Linked DNA regions of Homo sapiens: region 2 is linked to region 1. The links come from fine-mapping of genetic effects on gene expression. Tissue or cell type: naive CD4 T cells. Region 1 holds a variant in brackets; the other region holds the start of a gene. All regions are shown on one strand. Distances are from middle to middle.

What was found. PIP is the estimated chance that this variant, and not a neighbour inherited with it, causes the effect.
Region 2: PDIA6 starts here. The variant in region 1 is fine-mapped to the expression of PDIA6 in naive CD4 T cells (Schmiedel 2018, PIP 0.95).

The regions. Positions count from the first base shown.
Region 1 is chr2:11,006,099-11,008,854 of GRCh38, reverse strand. No RefSeq gene overlaps it. Among named protein-coding and RNA genes, the nearest start is that of KCNF1, 96 kb to the right of the region's middle. The variant T/A (reference allele first, on the strand shown) is at 1,551.
Region 2 is chr2:10,811,177-10,813,786 of GRCh38, reverse strand. It overlaps PDIA6 (protein disulfide isomerase family A member 6), which reads left to right and starts at 1,002. Exons shown (of 13, transcript NM_005742.4): 1 at 1,002-1,109. The coding sequence starts at 1,091. RefSeq lists a silencer at 700-1,449 and an enhancer at 1,940-1,999.

The DNA of each region.
Region 1 (2,756 bases):
TTAGGCTTTTTTATTATTATTATTATACTTTAAGTTCTAGGGTACATATGCACAACGTGCAGGTTTGTTACATATGTATACCTGTGCCATGTTGGTGTGCTGCACCCATTAACTTGTCATTTACATTAGGTATATCTCTTAATGCGATTCCTCAAGAATCTACAACTAGAAATACCATTTGACCCAGCCATCCTATTACTGGGTATATACCCAAAGGATTCTAAATCATGCTGCTATAAAGACACATGAACACATATGTTTATTGCGGCACTATTCCCAATAGTGAGGCGTAGTTAAGATTAATGTGAGGCTCAAAACCAGGGTCAGAGTCCGCACGCACACCCACCTCTCACCCCACCTGGCTTCAGATAAACTGGGTAGGGGGGCTCCTGGAAAGGCCTCTCTGCACATCGCTCCAGCCACAGCAACAATACCCAGAGACACGGCCTCAAGCCCCCTGGAGTTGGACCGTCTCTGATCTTAGAAGGGTCAGACTAGGACAAAACAAGCCAAAAAGAGAGCTGCTCTTTCCCATCCCTATTTAAATAGAGTGAGACATGCTGAATGCATGATGGCTCTCGAATGTTCCACAGCAGGGGAGCTGCAGCAGAAGGAGGAAGGAAAGGCCAGGGAAGAGGAAGGAGAGAGGTGGAAATCAGAAATCAGGGTGCCTGCACCTGCCAGCAGGGATAGCACTACCCAGTGTTGGGGTCATGGGTAAAAGCAGACAGGCTCCACCTGGATGTCTAATACCTGTCAAGGGACAGCTGGGAGAGTTGCGAGCTGCTCACCCGTCTGCTGGTTATCTGCGTACACATCACACCGGAGGAGATATTGAAAAGGAGTTGTTTTGACAGTTATTTAATTAGGGCTCAGCTATGAATATGCAACCCAGTGGTAGCTAAATTGCCTTGTCCCATCAGTGCTTAATGACATGCTTTCATTCCTATTTCATTACAAAAAAAGGTATAAACTCTGACAGTGACCATCCCTGACGACAAATGAACATTGCTGATTAGAAGCCACCGGTTTGACTGAAAGCAGATGAGGGTTGCCTGGGAATTGGGCAGAGGGTGAAAAGGGGGGGTGACAAGGGCCCAGGACACTATCAGGATGATGGGCATTTTTTATTTATTTATTTATTTATTTATTTATTTATTTATTTATTATTATTATACTTTAAGTTTTAGGGTACATGTGCACAATGTGCAGGTTAGTTACATATGTATACACGTGCCATGCTGGTGCGCTGCACCCACCGACTCGTCATCTAGCATTAGGTATATCTCCCAATGCTATCCCTCCCCGCTCCCCGCACCCGGGCATTTGTTATTGAGACCATGGCGATGGCCTCAGGAGCGCACTGTGTCAAATGCATCAGCACTGTGCGTTTTAAACACCTGCAGCCTCTCCTTCTCAACACAACTGAAGACGGGTCCATGGGCATCATGACCGTTGAGGCCTCTTCATCACTGCTTCCCCCTGAGTTAGTCTCAGAAATCCTCCAAAATAAACCTTGGAGGACTAGTTTTTAAAAATGTTATAATGTT[T/A]ACAACGACAACAAAAAACCTTAAAAGCCAGGGAGACACGGGGGGAGCTGAGGTTTATAGAACCACCACATCTTTGCAAACATGGTCTCATTTGACGCTTACCACAGCTCTATGAACCTGGTGGTGTTATGACTCCCGTTGTACATGACACACAGTGGCTCTGAGAAGTTACAGAACATAGGTGGTATCTGGTGGAGCCAGTCCGTCTGTCCGGCAACACATTCCCTCTGTTCTCTGAGCATCCCATGCTGCTAACTATGGTGCCACCTTCATTTGCAGGGGATCACAGGACACGCAGGCTGCTTGCTCCTACCACCCTCATAGAGGTCTCTGTTTCCTCATGATCCTGCTTCAGGCCTTGCCATATTGTCATCATGTAATCGTAAGGTAAGCATGATTCTGCATTCTGCTGTTTTCATTTCACGTTGTCAATATTTTCCCGTGGTGCTCATATTTATTTGAAAGCCTTCATAAAACCCAATGAGTTGATGCCTTATGATGATTTATTAATACTTAATCCTAGTGTTAGACAATAAGATTGTTTCTAGTATTTTGCTATATAAGTTACACAACACCCAGCATATCGTGCAACAGGCAGTGTTAGGGAGTGGATGAGAATACAGCCCCACAGTCAGGCTGCCTGGGCTCGAATCCCAGAACTGCCGCAGAATGCTGTGTAGCTTGAGGCAGGTTTTTTTGACCTCTCTGCCCTTCAGTTTCTTAATTGATAAAGCAGAGCTAATACTACCACCTCTCTGAGTCTCCGGGCCCCTAGAACAGAGAGACCTGGCTCCAGTAATGCAGGGTCCTGGGTCCATGGCTTTCCCATCGCAGGCAGCCTCTCTTTTGGTGACCCCTCTTTTCTGTGGCTGCTGTGATAACCCAAACCCCAACTCTAACCCTAACCCTACCACAGACGTAGTGGCTTGGAACAACACAAAGTGACTAGCTTACAGTTCTGTAGAGTAGAAATCCAGCACACATCTCACTGGGCTCAAATCAACGCGCATCCCTCCCTGGAGGCTGCAGGGGAGAGTGGGAGCCTCACCGTTTGCAGCTTCTGGACGCACTTGCTCATCTCCCTTCCTCCAGCCTCAAGGCCGATGGTGTTGGATGAGTTCTCGTGTTGCTCTCTGATGGCTCTCTTCTGATTTCCTCATCCACTTTCAAGGATATAGGATTCATACAGATAATCCAGCATAATCT
Region 2 (2,610 bases), 190 kb after region 1:
ACATGCACCTGTCATCCCAGCTTCTCGGGAAGCTGAGGCAAGAGAATCGCTTGAACCCGGGAGGCAGAGGTTGCAGTGAGCCAAGACCCCGCCTTTGCACTCCAGCCTGGGCAACAAGGGCAAAACTCCATCTCAAAAAAAAGCAAAAAAATTTTTACTTTTGCCGGGCGTGGTGGCCCATGCCTGTGATCCCAGCACTTTGGGAGGCCGAGGCAGGAGGCTCACTGCAGCCCAGGAGTTCAAGGCTGCAGTGAACTGTATCATGCCACTGCTCGCCAGCCTGCCCCACAAACATATTTTTTTTCACTTTTGCATATTTTACAAAGCACACACCCACGTGAGCGCATTGCCAGCCCCCTCGCCCCCCAGGACAAAGTGGAGACCCTGTCAGCGAGGAGGCTACCGCTTAAGTCCCTGGGGTTCTCCAGAGAAGGAGGAGAAGGCTCTGCAGAGCCATGCGCCCTGGACGGAAGAACTTTCAAAAGTAATTCAACAAAATAGAAACTTGTCGAATTACATTGCAGACAGCGCGTGCGGAGCAAATGTGTGTCCACGGAATATTCGTCGGGCACAAGAGGAATTCCCTGTCAGCTCCCAGGACCGTGGGTGCCCTGAGGCCGAGTCACGCTCCCCCGGGATAAAGAGGGTGGGGGCGCACACAGGCAAGGAGGAGGCGGGGTGGGGGGGTGCAGAATAAGGAACTAAGGTAAAAACGCCCAGTACTGGACTCCCCTCCGAGCAGCACCCCGAGAGGGCCCGGAGGAGCTGAGGCGGTGCGAGCCGAGACTGCCAGCCCCGCCCCCAGCAGGCCCCGCCTTCCGCTGCTCGCCACCGCCCCCGTGAAAAAAAACCAAACCGGTAACCTCTACCCGGCCGCCTCCCATTGGATATGTGAGTGAGCGATGTCCGCCCGGACCAATGAGCCGCAGCCACGGCTTGGCGAGCGCCTTCCGGCCCGCCCCCGCGCGGCCGCCCCTCGGACCACCGGACTGGCCTGGGGCGGGACGTGGGCGCGGGGGCGCGGCGTGCGGCACGCTGCAGGGCTGAAGCGGCGGCGGCGGTGGGGACTGCACGTAGCCCGGCGCTCGGCATGGCTCTCCTGGTGCTCGGTAGGTGCGGGCCAGCGGAGGGAGGCGGGCGAGCTGGGGTCGGCCTGAAAGGTTTCGAATCTCTAGGCCGTTCCCCGGCGGGCCGCGGCCGCAGGCGGCCGGAAGTGGGCCTGGCGGGCGGGAGGCGCGGGCCTCGGCGTCCGGAGGAGCTGCTAGGTTGCCCCGGCGGAGGTGCGGGTGCGCGGGAGACTCGGGCGCCCGTGGGGAGGGGCTTCCGCAGCCGCGGGGGGCGGGAGCCTCGTGCGCTGGAGCCGGGCGCGGGGTCCAGGGCCGGGCGGGAGAGCCGCGGAGCCCAGCCCCGGCCGGATCCCGGGGAGGGGGTCTGTATTCCCGGAGAGTCGCAGGGGAGCTTGTTCCGGGCTCTTCTCGAACTCGTGCGTGGGGACGGAGGTTGGCGGGCGTCCTGCACTGCTGCTTGTTTCTGCCACCTGCTTTATGCAGCTCCTACTTTTAAAAACTGAAATGTTAAGCCGGGCGCGGTGGCTCACACCTGTAATCCCAGCACTTTGGAAGGCCGAAGCGGGTGGATCATCTGAGGTCAGGAGTTCGAGACCAGCCTGACCAACATGGCGAAACCCCGTCTCTACTAAAAATACAAAATTAGTCGGGCGTGGTGTCGCGCGCCAGTGATCCCAGCTACTCAGAAGGCTGAGGCAGGAGAATCTCCTGAACCCCCAGGAGGCGGAGGTTGCAGTGAGCCGAGATCGCGCCACTCCAGCCTGGGCAACAAGAGTGAAACTCTGTCTCAGAAACGAAAAACTGAAATGTTAAATCTCAGTCCTGAAATAAGGACCCATAGTTCCCTTAGAAAGGGACAGTGCCTTCCAAAAGCTGGGCTTAAGACGCAGGGGCGCTTCGCATGTGATCGGACTCCTTAAAAACGAAATGGAACGCGGCGTCTTAGGAATTCTGTAAATGTCTGCTTCTTAGTGGGCGAGGCCGAGGGTCCTGTCCTTGCCGGGCTCGCCTTGGTCACAGCCTTGGCTCTGACAGTCCTTAACCTCGGCTCTGGCCTCAGACCACCTTCCCCCTATTTACTGGCTCTGTGACTTGGAGCAAGTTACTTAACCACTCTGTGCCAGTGCCTTTTCAACGGTGTTCACCATTTTAGGGACTGATAATAGTACTCCCTTAGGGTTGTCCTGAGGATTAATGAGTTAGTACATGTCTTTCTGTTTTTTGAGACACGGTCTTGCTCTGTCTCCTAGGCTGGAGTGCAGGGTTTCCATCATAGTTCACTGCAGCCTGGAACTCCTGGTCTCAAGGGATCCAGGCACATGCCACCACACCTGGCTAATTTTTAAATTTTTTGTAGAGTCAGGGTCTCATTGTATTGCTCAGGTTGGTCTCAAACTCCTGGCCTCGAGTGATCCTCCTTCCTCAACCTCCCAAAATCCTGGGATTACAAGTGTCAGTCACCTGGCCCAGCTAGTACATGTTTTAAAGAGATGTAAATATTTGCCATATTACTGTGGAGAGAGTAGATGAGGGGAAAAGAGTT